4 linked regions of the Homo sapiens genome follow. The protein of the gene in region 3 purifies or fractionates together with the protein of the main gene of each other region. This does not show direct contact. Each region holds a gene or a part of one and is shown on either strand. Other genes may lie near its edges.

Region 1 (3,568 bases), on a different chromosome or scaffold from region 3:
AGTGCAGGTAGCTGTGGGGGCACTGGGCTGTTAGAGGGGCCACTGGGAAATTAAGGGCAGGGGGAACCCAAGGGTTAAGAGGAGCAAGGGCCAGGTCTCCTGCTGGTCACCATAAAGATAATCCCCACACTCTGAATCTCCATTATGCCTGATGATTTAAATAGCTGGATAAGCACTAGGAGAAAGAGGTAGGAGATAAGTGTCGTGGTTAGGGCATTAGGACGCACCCTTTAAAAGACCCGTAGGGGCCCTAATCTTGACAGTATATGATTCAAAGAAAGTGGGGAGAGGCAGAATAGAACAGAAGAGTAGTGCCCTGAAATCTGTTTGGAGTAACTACATCAGGAAATATGGGTAAGAAACTAACCAGGTACTACTTACCTTAGGGCAGAGAGGATTTGTGTGCACCAACGCTTCCATGCCTGGAACAAAGTTGGATCCAAGGGTCAGCAGTAATTCCCTCTCTTAACTCTCTCCCACTAGCTCCTTCCGTCCCTTCCTGATCAGCTTCATTATTAACAGAGTCCTTTTTAAAACCACCCCCAAAAACCAGCCTCAAACTTTGTCTGCTCTCCTTCTATACCTTTTCATTCATCGTCTTGTGGTTCTTTTTGGTCTTCTTCAGAAATTGCTTCAGACTCCCAGATGACATGTATTCTGTGATAAAAATGACCTGGGGAGGCAAAGCACTTACTAAAAGGCCTTATAGTAGAAATGATCCCTTCCCTTGTTAACATATTTTAAATTTGAAGGTTTGTTAAAATTTCTCTCCTTTTGTTCTTAGCTTTACTTACTTAGACTAAATAGGGCAATGAAAACAAGCAATGAAAGTTATGGGAAGAAAGAAGCAAAAGTTCACTCATTTTCTGCCCAATCTATAGCCACACAAAAGGCATAGGTGACAACTGAAGCCCTACTCTTATCGCCATTGCAGCTGATTCCAGTTCTGTTTCAAAACTACCTTGTTTTAATCTCTGAGTGTAAAAGGAACAATAATAAATGTAGCTAGTCTCTTTGCAATAAGTTCAGGAAATATGGGGAAAAAATTCTTACCCTGGCCTTGTTCTCTTTAATGTCAGCCCAATATTTGTGAAACTTAACAATGTTAAGATGCTCCAATTGAATCAGATTATCAAACACAGCACGAACCTTTTCCTGAAAGCAAGGGAGACAGTGGAATAACAGAGTCACAAATCACTGTAATAATCCTGAGAAGCCATTCCCTATCCCTCCCCAGAAACGATCTAACCCCAACATACTCTCCTCACGGGCAGCTTCCCAACACCAATTCCTCTCTAACATCAGTGTTCCAACATTCCCCAGGCTTCACCTTTTCAGCATCACCTACCTCCTGCAGCTTGTAGTTCTTGCGTTCAGAGAACTGTACCTCATTCCACACAACCTCTACACCTTCCTCTGTATCCATGGCCAGGTATGCACTGTCAATACCTGGTACATTCCGTTGATTCACCTGAGAAGAAATTCATATGAAAGAGAATTAAACTTATCTCACAAATCCTCCATTTTAACACTCCATATGATCATCTCCTCCTAGCCCCCAACCTATTGAAGTTTGGTTGGCCTCTTTTAAGACTTTGCTCTTCCAGTTCTCACCTTTCCAGAATTCACTCACCCAAGAGTAACTGTACCATAACCTTACCTCTTCTCGCCTCTTCTGCCAGCGCCCACAGGGCGACTCTTCCAAAATCTCAGACTCATCTTCACTTTCTTCTTCTTCCTCTGGGGAAGCAGCTGAGGTTGTGGAGGTCACAGGAGGTGACACTGATGTCAGGCCAGGAGCTGAAGATGAGGATTCTACCTTTGGGTCTGAGCCACTGCTAAGTACTGTCTGGGACTCCCCCTCCGACATGCTGGAAGGAACACTCAGGCCTGCACTGGTTGGGGCAAATACAGAGGGAAAAGGCAGAGAAAGTCAGGATACATCTGTAAAGATTTAGTAATCCAGGCTGGACGTGGTGGCTCATGCCTGTAATCCCAGCACTTTGGGAGGCTGAGGTGGGCAGATCACCTGAGGTCAGGAGTTCAAGACCAGCCTGATCAACATGGTGAAACCCCATCTCTACTAAAAATACAAAATTAGCTGGGTGTGGTGACGCGTGCCTGTAGTCCTAGCTACTCAGGAGACTAAGGCAGGAGAATTTTTTTGAACCAGGGAGGTGGAGGTTGCAGTGAGCTGAGATCACGCCACTGCACTCCAGCCTGGGTGACAGAGCAAGACCCCATCTCAAAAAAAAATTTAGTAATCCAGCTGAGCACAGTGGCTCACCTCTGTAATCCCAGCACTTTGAGAAGCCGAGGCAAGAGGTTCATTTGAGGCCAGGTGTTTGAGACCAGCCTGGGCAACAAAGTGAGACCCCATCTTTACAAAAAAATTTAAAAATTAGCAGGGCAAGGTGGTACACAGCTATAGTCCCAGCTACCCGAGAGGCTGATGGGAGAATCACTTGATTGCCCAGGAGTTTGAGGCTGCAGTGAGCTATGATCATGCCATTGGCTAGGCAACAGAGGGAGACCCTGTCTCAACAAAAAACAAACAAACAAAAAAAAAGATTTAATAATCCTAATACTTATCTGCAAATTCAAAAGAAAATAAAACAGGCCAGGCATTTGAGACCAGCCTGGACAACATAAAAAGACCCCAGTCTCTACACAAAACTTTTAAAAATTAAAAATAGAAAACACACACCACCTTTGTTTCCTTTAAATCCAAAATCAGAATCAGTCCTAAATACTGAAACATTAACTATTCTCCTAACTCTAGTCTAGAAAAGGGGAGCTATCTTAGTTGAAGATGACCCTCCCAGGAATGACAAACACAAGATTTATGGCAGTCTAATCCCACTTAGAGTAAGGTTCAAATCACCAGCAAAATCAGGTGCTCCATTCCTTCTTGGCAAATACTCATCCAATAGGCTTCCCTTTGAATCCCCAAGTACACCCTATTTTTACTGTGCTCAAGAATTAAGCTATGTGTGGACGGGCACAGTGGCTCACGCCTTTAATCCCAACACTTTGGGAGGCCGAGGTAGGTGGATTACCTGAGGTCAGGAGTTCGAGACCAGCCTGACCAACATGGCAAAACCCTGTCTCTACTAAAAATAAAAAAATTAGCTGGGTGTGGTGGCACGCACCTGTAGTCCCAGCTACTCAGGAGGCTGAGGCAGGAGAATCACTTGAACCCGGGAGGCAGAGGTTGCAGTGAGCTGAGATCGTGCCACTGCACTCCAGCTTGGGCAACAGAGTGAGACTCTGTCTCAAAAAATAAAAAAATATAAACTATGTGGGCGCTATTCAGAACAGATGACTCCAGACTCCAAAATGTTTCAGTGAGACAGCCTTAAGGCTAGACCTGTAGCACCCTCAGCCAACTTATCCAGCTGAAACCCTTGGCTAATTTATCCAGCTAGAACTAACCTTGGCATTCACTATCCATCCCTTCTCTACACAGAACAAGCCCACTAGTCCATGGTGAGGCTACCCTTGGGGCACATGACTGGCAGTTGTTAGTGACTTCATCCCTGATGACCTCACCTTTCCTGTGATGTGA
Region 2 (3,568 bases), on a different chromosome or scaffold from region 3:
TTCATCTGATGTTCTTTTCCCTTCCAGATCTAAATTGAACTCAACATTTTACATTCCATCTTTTCTGAAGATTGTCCTACAATTTGGATTTTGATCATGACAAAGAAGATTAAAATTTCATTAGCATGAATGCAATTTGTTAAAGCAGACTGATTTGTTTCTAAGATATTTTTGGTTTTTTTAAAACTGATAATAATGCTGAATTATCTTAAGTGAGATGTTAAGCCCACTTTGTTCTTTTAATGTAATGGAGCTTATGGGTAGAAGACCATGTCTACTAATTACAAAAAAAAAAAAAAACCATGCATTGCTGCTTTTCCTACCACTTCCAGTAAGAAAATGGGTGTTTTGAAGAAATCATTTGCCTTGTCCTCACGGAATCTGATTAAGCCCTGGCCTCTTGATTGTATAGAGTCATTGTGTATATTCCAGTTACCTAGATATTCCCTTGAGATTTTGATACAATTTGAGGGAGGCAGAAGTCTGCAGTTGAAGAAAAAAAATAAGTCTGTTTGTCATATTTAAGTAGCCTGTGGCTATTTTTATACTGATTTTGATATCATGTTCTTTTCATAGTCGTATTTTGCCACCGTAAACATAAAAAAAAAAAAAAAGATTTCCAAAATGCCGTTTTCAGAACCTGGGTTTTAATAGCAGTATTGAATTTGTAAGCTTAGTAGTTGCAGAAATTGAACACTAGGTGGCACTCAGTTATCTTAACAGGGGAAGTACTGATACAATTGTTGACTTTTCTTTTACTATGTGTAAGAAATACCCCAAACATGAAAAGATTGTTTTGATCATATGCATGTATGTAGAATATTTTTGCAGAGCAGAAAGATTATGTTAGAAGTGTGATTTTTATTTTCAGAAGTCATATACATGTAAGCTACAATTTTGAGTGCTTTATAAACACTTAAGATATATATATAAATTTTAATTTCATAGCAACTTGTAAAAAATAAAATACTTGTTGAAAAGCCTTTTTCAACATATCCCTAAGCTAAGGGAAGAGGAAGGAATAACAACTCAGTGAAAAGATGGTCTCCAGTTTCTGAATGAAAAAGCTACAGCTGAGAAATAAAATAAAATGTCATGCTGCAGAATATGTTATACCCTTATTTTGTGTTAAGGATATATTTTATTATGTGAATGGTTTTGTTTTTGTTTTTTGTTTTTGTTTTTTGCTTGTATTGGGAATTAGCTTTACTGGTAACTTCCTTATTTAGTTTTTAGTGGTCAACTCTAATAAAATGAAACTAGGGCTGAGCTAGTTAGCCCTCACTAGCCAAACTGAAACTCTATGCAACATTAAAAGAAGAGATCCATCATGTAGCTTGTGACACTTTTATTTTATTAGTCACCGGGGAACTTTTCAGTGATGAAAATACACAGGGTAATAAACCTTCACATGGCTTCAAAAGGAAAACAAGCAAATCTTCTCTAATCTACTCTTACTATAATTTCCTAAGTGTACACCAAACTCTGGATTTAAAAATCTGAAGTACTATAGAACATTAAGTTGAAGAATGGAAATTAAGAGTACGTATTCATGGTTTATATTTCTTATTCTATGGAGTTCGTGAACACATCTAGGTGGAATGCATCTGAGACTAAGGGCTGGTTTTTAATCCTCATAAGAAACCAGCCTTGAAGAATTAACAATTCTCTTCATTGGTATTCTAAACCTCCTAAGATATTTAGGCTTCTGTACATAAAAGTGTTTTTGCTAAATTTACAGTATATATAGATCCTTTCATATTATTTTACTAAGAATGTTTGAACTTTGCATATTTGATATAGTTCCTGGTAGGAATAGCACAGCTCAAACATTAGTTTTTCTACTTACCTCCTCTAACACGTGGTTTGTCTGGAGAGTTTCTAAAAATTCAGCTATAACCCCAGTTCATGTATTTACTGGTGATTGTTCTTGCTGAGGTAGTAACAGCCCAATCTTGGGCTGTTAAATCCTAGGAAATCTCGAATCATAGTGATTAAAATAGTTGGGGTAAAGTTGTAGCTTATATGCAATACTACTTGGAGGAATTCTTCTACTAATTTGTATTTAATGTGGAAATTGTATAGTTTCATTGATTTAATCATAAATAATGGAAATGGTCTCCAAGAAGTTTTATTTTTCATTTTTTTGCTTATACACTCTGATTCCTATAATACAGTGCTATAAGCTATGCACAGAAAATAAAATGTTTGAAATCCAAGAATAATGGTTCTTACTGCTAAGAGGGAGTAATAGTTATTACTAATGATTTTGATTGGGTTGCATTTTTGTTGCAATGTTTATTCCACTTGCAGTTAGAATATGAATATGTTTTATCACTAGTGTGGCTAAATAACCAAACATTTGTGTAAAAAAAAAAAAAAGCCAAGATTTCATTGTTTGTTGAATATTTCTTAAGCATCTGGCCCCTAAAGAGACCGCTTCTTACCAAGCCTGTAAACTATGCATGATGGAAATTCTTGTATTTTATTTAGGAATGGCTGTTGGTTTACTCACCACATCTGTGGAATCATGGCTATAAATGTTTGCTTACAAACTCTTTGTGACTTGTAATTTAACTTAATCTCATCTAATGTAAATATTAGATTATGATGTTCAGTAACATCTTCCATAGGTATAAACTGCTGTCATTATTGATTTCAGAGTAACTCTGAGTAATCAAATAGGTAAAAGCATGTTTTGAGTAAAATAGCTAGATTTATACTTTACTTGTATACAGACTTAACAACAACCGGTATTGACTGGATTGACAGCTAAAGTATCAGAATGAAAGCAAGGTTTTTTTGATGTTACCTGACTGTCATAAAGATGAAAATGATTTGTATTGGTATGAAATGCTTATCTTTATTCTACTTCGTAAGGGTAAGTTTTATTTATACTCTTTGGACTCCCATGAACTTTTGCACACTGCTTTGTGTTTTTGGTTTACCCTAAACTACCATCCTTTTTATCTTTGCTTTTTTTCTTCCTATTCAGAAAAGAGCAAAATGTGAAAAGACACAAGACTCTCAGGTATAGAATGAACTGAGCAATTTGGAGAATGTATTGGACTTTGTCCTCTCTTATTCCCCCCTCCTAGCCCTGCAAGTTGCTAGGTACTTGTGAGGCAGTGTACTGGAGAGGGGAGAGCATGGATCCTGGGGTCAAAGGGCCTTTGCCCCCACCCTTACTTGGCCCTCTACCTGCAGGTGACCACTGGCACATTCTCCTGCTTGTCTCAGCTTCAGGTTCTTCACCTCTAAGATGGGGATGATGAAAACAGTACCTGTCATGCAGAATTGTTGGGAGGATTGATAATTTAGATGTTTATACATGTAATGTACTTAGATCAGTGTCTGCTCTTTTCACTTGATATCCAGTACTATGTAAGATAGAAGGTGCATGTCTTCTGTATTCTGTATTTCCCATTTCTTTTGCGTGCAGTCTTTGATTCGTACAATAGAAGGAACACGTAGAATGTATATTTGTACATTCATGTCAACATAGTATTTGAAATTGCTACCAAACTCATTTAATTTGGCATAAGACTAACAGATGAAGTCTCTCATT
Region 3 (3,568 bases):
TTGATGCTGAAATGAGCTAAGACTTTGGGCGACTGTTGGAAAGGGCATGATTATGTTTTGAAATGAGAGGACATGAGATTTGGGAGGGGCCAAGACCAAATTTCATCTTGAATTGTAGTTCCCATAATCCCCATGTGTCATGGGAGGGACCCAGTGGGAGGTAATTGATTCATGGGGACAGTTACCCTCATGCTGTTCTTATGATAGAAAGTGAGTTCTCACGAGGTCTGATGGTTTTATAAGGAGCTTTGCCCCCACTTCACTTATACTTCTCCTTGCTGCCACCATGTGAAGAAGGACATGTTTGCTTCCCTTCCACCATGATTGTAAGTTTCCTGAGGCCTCTCCAGCCATGCTGAACTGTGAATCATTTAAACCTCTTTCCTTTATAAAATTACCCAGTCTCTGATATGTCTTTATTAGCAGCATGAGAACTAATACAATTCTAACACATGATCCATACAAAAATTATTAATAAGGCAATTTACATTCTTTTTTTTCACAGTATGTCTTTGGAATCTGGTGTGTACTTTATAATGAAAGCATATCTCAATGTGAACCAGCCACATTTCAAGTGCTCCATAGCCACATGTGACCAGTGGCTACCGCACTAGATCATGCAGCTTTAGAGCTCAGCTTAAATGTTAGTTCCTGTAGGCCAGTGGTTCTCAAACTTTAATGTATATCAAAATCAAATTAAACAGATTGCTTGGGCCCACTTCCAGAGCTTGATTTAGTAGGTCTGGGGTGGGACTGTGAATATGCATTTCTAGCAAGTCCTCAGGTGATGGTGACATGGCTGGTCCAAGGACCATGTTTTGAGAACCCCTGGCTTTAGACTTCCTCTTCACCCATTGGGAAGTAGGTCAGGCCTGCTGACCTACTCCTGTAGCATCCCGCTTAACCACATTTGGTGCACTTGCGATGGATCCCTTGAGATATATTACCTGTTCAATGGCTATGTGCCCTGTAAGACTGTAAGCTGCATCAAGGCAGGTCTTACTGCTGTATCTCTAGAACCTAGCACATCGCTTGGCACATATGAGGCACTCAGTAGGTGTACTGACTGAACCAAAGTCAGACAGAAATGACTGGATTGTACACATGAGACTAAGGCTTGAGAGTTTTAGTGGTAACTGCCACAGTAAAATCAGTTGGCAGGGCTAAGATGTTAGGAAACTTTAACTTAAGAATCTCAGGGTATTTATGTCAAAACAGGAGCCAAGAATAATTATCCATTATAGTTCTGTACTTTGTACTTTTGTACTATAAGTTTAGTATGTTCATGGATGGCCATAATCTCCACAGAAAAAAATGGAGATTCTGATTGACTTGTTCAAAAACATATGGCCAGTAAATGGCAAACTGGAACTGCAACCCTGGTCTTCTGCCTTCAACCCCCCACTGGAGATATTAGAGTCATGGTTTGAGGATCTTGGCTCACTTGGCTTCACTTCACAGGGGTATCTCCAGTTCCAACTTGTCCTTCCAAACCCAGGCAGCCATTTCATCAAACGCAAACGAACAAGGTGAACATGAAGGAGGGCTCACCTTATTAGTACTCTTGAGAAAAACCTCAAGGCACAAAGTAAGCCAGGCAATAGTCACCCCAACTTATAAAGAGGAACCTTACTAAGAATAAATACTCCCCATCCCAAATTAAAAACTATTCCTTTTCAACCTCAAGCTTTATTTTTTTTGTTTTGTTTTGTTTTTCATAAAAGCTCACCAACCTGTACCTGGTTTCTCATTTATCCCATAGCAAAAGTTACTGGCACTTAAGTACCGATTTTAATCAATAATTTACATCATGTCAAAAAAAGAACACATAGGTTATTGATTTATCCCCCAGGGTGTCTTCCTTTTTAAAGTGTGATCTGGCTTGAAGAAAAAGTTTACTAAGGAAACATCTTTTACACAGCTGTGTATCTTATCCTCCCTCCCCTTCCTCTTGTCCATTTACCTTCCCTTCTAGCCATTCCTTTTTTAGTTTCCTGACACCAAACTTGTGCCTTACCCACTCTACTGAAATGGTGCCTCAAAAGACTACAGGTTAGTTACTTCTTACTAAGTGGAGATCATCTTCTCTCATGACTTCTCTAAAACAGACTACTTCCATCAAGAAAAAAAACCCACTAAGATTTTGGTGTAGCATTTCCTCCAGCTCTTCCACGGTTACATCTTGGTCTTGGGTGTCTGCATTTTCTTACCTACCTGTAAGAGTACTATGAAGATGATCATATTAGTCACAGTAGCCAACATTCACAGAGTGCTCACCTGTGAATGTTAGTTCAATGTTACTTGGCACTGTTTGAATCCTCAACCACCATTCCATGGAGTGGCTACTATGATTACTCCCATTTCACAGATGAAGAAACAGGAGGAAAGGTTAACTTGCCTAAGGTAACAGAGGCTGTAAATGGCAGAGCTGGAATTTAGTCTCGAGAAGTCTGTATCTATGCCCTGAACCATTTTGCTACACTGTCACATTGAAACCTGAGGCTCAGTCTTCAGTTCTTGGAAACCCTTTTCTCACTGCTTTAATCACATTAAAATGGATGACTCATAAATTGAAAGCCCCAAATACTCAGTCGCCCTAGCCTGACCAATTAATTCATTCTTCAAACATTTTGCAGATCCCATTTAGGCATGGCCCAATGCTAGGCCTATGAGGAATATGTAATCCAACAAGAATTATGTCTTCATCTTCAGTACGTGTGTGTGTGTGTGTGTACCTAAAACTCAAAGTAATTCACACCATGAGAAAGCACTTCATTAGTAAAAGAGAGGTGGGATGGGAGAGAATATTTCTGAGTAAGGCTTCGTGGACACAGTATTTTTTAAGCTGGATTTGGAAAGGCAAGGTTTAGATTTACAGAAAAAAGTAAAGGAATTCCAATCTAGGGGAACAGTGAGTGAAGGCAAAGGAACAGGTACATATGGAAAATGGCGAGCCCATTCAAACTGGTTGGAGTATAGCTAGAGTAACCATACATCCTGATTTGCCTAATAGGCAAAAAATATTCTTTCCATAAATGCCACCATAAAATTGAAGTTATGGTTCAAGATTAGCATTCTTTTGGCAAGGTCAAGACAGAGAGGGTAGTTAGGAGAAAGAGGCACATGCATCATTATTACAGAACAGTATTGTCTTAGGCCTGTTTCCCCAACATAATTACTACTAGGGCCCCTTTCACACTTAAGTGTCCCATTTGGAAAATTATATGGCCACTGTAAGTATAGGGTATAATAAGGAAGCAGGAGAAGACTAGCCTAGAAAGATAAGAAAAAATAGTGACACAAAAAAAGCCTGTGCCAAAGCATGTAGGTTTTTCTATACATATTGGGACATCATTAAAAGTTTAGTAGCATGCATTTTAGCAGGATCAGGCAGCACTTACTTACAGAAATAGACAGGAAAACCCAGGAGTATGAACACTAGCTGAGAGGTTTTTGCAATAATTCTGGTAACACAGAATAAAGACTTGGACCAGGACAATGGCCGTTTAAGTGAGATGAAGGAGATAAACGTGAAAGACACTATAGCTTAGCTCAGATGTTAGCAACT
Region 4 (3,568 bases), on a different chromosome or scaffold from region 3:
CTCAGCAATGGGGCTCCACGAAACACAAGGCAAACAGCCCTATGACAACAGCAATGTGCCCCACCCGACAATGCCACCAGGACCTTTAACTCAATAGAAAAGAATAGGAAAAGATTTGCATTAGGCTAATGCTGGCAGACAGAAATTCCAGACCCTTCATCCCAAGCCTACCCTCCTGAATTACAGCAGCCCCTTCAGGCCCACGTAGGAGGAGAGGCCCTGACTCCTGGCACATCCTCGGGGTCATGACGGCTTTGACCGATGCCCATGAGGTGCCACAAGGGACTCTCGGACCACTACTCACCTTCCCTGCCCTGTCCCTTGGGATCAGGACGGCTTTGGCTAATGCCCACGAGGTGCCACAAGGGACTCTCAGACCGCTGCTCACCTTCCCTGCCCTGTCTCCCCCACCGCCCTTCACCTCCAGAACCTGCTTTCTTGCCACAGCATTTACCATCACTTGCCACAGGATATATCTGCGTTGACTGCTTGTCTCTCCACGGCAACGTGAGAACTATTTTTGTGTGCTGTGGCACCGCAGCACTGAGAGCAGCATCCAGTACGCAGGTGGCACTCGACACTGACTGCACACAAGGTGAGCTAGGCCTGATAACCCCACTCACGCGGGGGGAGACGTTGCAACTGGAGGTCACATTCATCCCCCTGCAGCTGAGACCCTTCCACAGCCCCCGCACCCACCGTGGGCCTGAGAGGCCGGATCCCATGCAGCTGTCCCAGAAAGGGGCTATAGAACCCCGAGCCTTGGTGAAGGGAAGTGGCCTCCCCAAACTCTGTGTCCAGCCGAGAAGCACAGCCCGTGCGCACACGGTAGGAGCAAGAGGGCTACCTCCACTGCCACTGCCGCTTGGGCAACCGTCCATCCCATCCAGGCCACGCGTCTCCCCAGGTGCCTGCTGACTGGGCCTTGGCGGGGGGTGGAGGGGGGCACATGGACACATACCTCCAGAGCTTCCTTGGCAGCCTCACACTTTTCTTTCCGGCCAGAGATGATGATGATGTCACACCTCCTTGGAGAGCCGGGGTCACAATCTTTAGCCTCTCTCCCCTCCCCAGCTTCGTCCCCATTCTCCTGGACAACTGGCTCTGTACTGTGAACTAGAGAGAAAGGGGAAAAGGGACAGCTGACAGCTGCTGGAAGAGACCCCACACCTTGTTCAGAATGCATATGTCTGTGAGGCACCTGCTGGGTGCTGGGTGGTAAAAGGGAGGGAAAACCACTCCTGTCCTTCAGGAGGTCTTGGTCTGGTCAGGGAGAGCAGATAGGACGTCCCCACAGCAGCCTCAAAGAGGGCTCCCAGACCTTGGGGGGGGGGGGGGGGGCGGCAATGAAGGCTTTGCCGGGAGGCCGTGAGCTCTGTGTCTCCCTTCTTCACCTTGAAGATGAAGCTAACAGCAACTAACTACAGCAGAGGCTTCAGTGAGATCAGATGAGTTAGTTCATGGGAGGAACACAGGGCAGACCCACTGCACAAGTGAGGCTTGACTGTGAGGCAGGGCTCATCAGGGAAGGCGGCCAGCACGCAGCCCCACCCAGGAGAGGCAGTGGGAAGGGGGGTGAGAGGTCTAGGGGAGACAGAAAGGGCAAGGCCAAGGTAAACCTGTGCCAGCTCCTTATGCCAGAAAGCGAGAGCCCCAGAAGTGAAGAGGCGTGTGAACAGGACACAGAAGACAGCTGGAGGGGCTCCTACAGGCCACACTGGGACACCGCGTGTGTACCAAAATAGACACCACAACAATAAGTGTCACAAAACAGACACAACAATAATTATCACTAAGACAGAACCCAGGAGGTGTGTGATGTAAATAAATGAGCAGGAGACCAGACAGACGCCTGCCTGAAATCAAGGGTGATCCTAGGATGGGGAAGTAGGTGTTTCTGAAGGAGAAAAACTGGCAAATTTGAATACCGACAACATATTAGATACTACTGTTATATAATGTTAAATCCGATTCCGATAAATGTGCTAGAATTATGTAAGAGAATGTCCTTGTTCTAAGAAAATACCCACCATGAATAAAGGGACATGTCTAAAAATGACATTCAGAAAAAAAACGTGTGTAAAAGGGGAGAAGTTGAGAAAAGAAACTGGTGCCACAGGATGTGTCTTTATACTATTCTGTGAAATTCTATCAAAATCAAAGTTTTAAATAACCACTGAAGTGTAAAACATAGACAGAGTGCAGTATGAGTTTATTAGTTTCCTACTCAAAACACCCTGTATTCTCAGGAAAACAAAGGGGCTTGAATGGCTGTGTGTGACATGCTTCCTGGATGCCCAGAGAGATGACACTATGTGCACTCAGCAGGCTGCAGGGCCACCTGCCGCCCAAACAGCTCAACCAAGACTGATAACACAGAGTGGAGGGCGGGCATCTGATAACACAGAGTGGAGGGCATACCTTTTGTTTCACAAATGCAGAGCAAGTGAGAGAGAGGCAACCGACCCGCATCCCACAGGTCGCCTCCCCACCACCAGGTGCATGAGCAGAGCTGGGGGCAAGCATGGTACGGGGAACTGAATGCTCTCCTAGAACTGCCGGCCACTTGGATGGTGCCCTCTGGCCAGCCAGAGGCTGCAGCTGCCTGCCTCACAGGGGACACCCCACAGTGATGGGAGATGTGGAGGAGGAAGCTCTACGACGGGGCTCATGCGATCCAAACGATGTCATGAGAATCACTGGGACTGAACTCGGGACACCCGAGGATGAGGCTGCACGCTCCTCATCGCCTTGGGACTGGCTACCTTGTGTGTCTCTAGGACCTATGAAGGTCACCTGGTCACTCTGTCAGTAACTGACGTGGTCCATCTTTTAAAGGCCAGGGAGTGACCCTGAACCTCTGGAAGCCCCCAGAATACATAGATGGTTTTCCAGCAGAGACAGGAAAGAGCCTCACCAGTATGTGCGACAGCCCCGCCTCTCACATGGGAGGCGCCACTATTAACAAGCAGAGCAGGGCTAATGGGGGACCCACCTGCGTTCTCCTCTCTGTCTGGGAATTTAATTTGAACACTGAAATCCCGAGTAATCTGCTGGATTCTGGAACCTTTGGGGCCCATGACAGATCGATGGAATTTCTGGGGTATAGCACATTCTAATGTCACCTGAGCTTCCTGGAGGGAGGTACACAAAGAAAAAAGAAAAGAGCAAAGATTAAATTCCTTAGGGCAAGTTTTACAGCACTCTTCACACCACCTTCCTCCCTGTCCTCTACAGCCACTTGGCACAGATGCTCCCCTTCTCCCGAGTCCAGGGCTCCAGGCGCAGGGAGGAGGGAGGTAGCAGGACAGGTCTAAGGGGGTGGGCCTCCTCTGAAATGTGTCCCAGAAGGCCAGGTGCCATCCCTGGAGGGTGGCCAATTCAGCCAAAGGAGTGGGACCTCCTGGGGTAGCCTCTGACTCCATGAGGAGGCATCAGACTTGATTATTAGGGAAAGGGAATCCAAGGCCCTGGCAGGGGAGTGGCCTGGAGGGGACACTCTCTAAAGACTGCTTCTAAAGACCACGTCTTCTCATGACTTCCCATGGATTCACGTGGATGCCCTCAA

What was found.
Region 1: the proteins of BPGM (region 3) and NRBP1 purify together in Homo sapiens (affinity purification with mass spectrometry; 3 studies listed by BioGRID and IntAct, with this or other methods). This does not show direct contact.
Region 2: the proteins of BPGM (region 3) and EIF1AX purify together in Homo sapiens (affinity purification with mass spectrometry, with the first as the bait; one large-scale study listed by BioGRID). This does not show direct contact.
Region 4: the proteins of BPGM (region 3) and HDLBP purify together in Homo sapiens (affinity purification with mass spectrometry, with the first as the bait; one large-scale study listed by BioGRID). This does not show direct contact.

Annotation. Positions count from the first base shown.
Region 1 is NC_000002.12:27,431,576-27,435,143, reverse strand, and holds part of NRBP1 (nuclear receptor-binding protein), read right to left. Parts: intron 1,896-3,568; exon of another isoform or gene 1,891-1,895; 5' UTR 1,871-1,890; coding exon 1,661-1,870; intron 1,472-1,660; coding exon 1,349-1,471; intron 1,156-1,348; coding exon 1,054-1,155; intron 674-1,053; coding exon 584-673; intron 423-583; coding exon 382-422; intron 12-381; coding exon 1-11. UniProt on the Homo sapiens protein: Required for embryonic development. Plays a role in intestinal epithelial cell fate and proliferation, thereby involved in the architectural development of the intestine potentially via the regulation of Wnt-responsive genes.
Region 2 is NC_000023.11:20,124,771-20,128,338, reverse strand, and holds part of EIF1AX (eukaryotic translation initiation factor 1A, X-chromosomal), read left to right. Parts: intron 1-27; coding exon 28-33; 3' UTR 34-3,568. UniProt on the Homo sapiens protein: Component of the 43S pre-initiation complex (43S PIC), which binds to the mRNA cap-proximal region, scans mRNA 5'-untranslated region, and locates the initiation codon. This protein enhances formation of the cap-proximal complex.
Region 3 is NC_000007.14:134,653,293-134,656,860, reverse strand, and holds part of BPGM (bisphosphoglycerate mutase), read right to left. Parts: intron 1-3,568. UniProt on the Homo sapiens protein: Plays a major role in regulating hemoglobin oxygen affinity by controlling the levels of its allosteric effector 2,3-bisphosphoglycerate (2,3-BPG). Also exhibits mutase (EC 5.4.2.11) activity.
Region 4 is NC_000002.12:241,235,654-241,239,221, forward strand, and holds part of HDLBP (vigilin), read right to left. Parts: intron 3,135-3,568; coding exon 2,996-3,134; intron 1,117-2,995; coding exon 962-1,116; intron 1-961. UniProt on the Homo sapiens protein: Appears to play a role in cell sterol metabolism. It may function to protect cells from over-accumulation of cholesterol.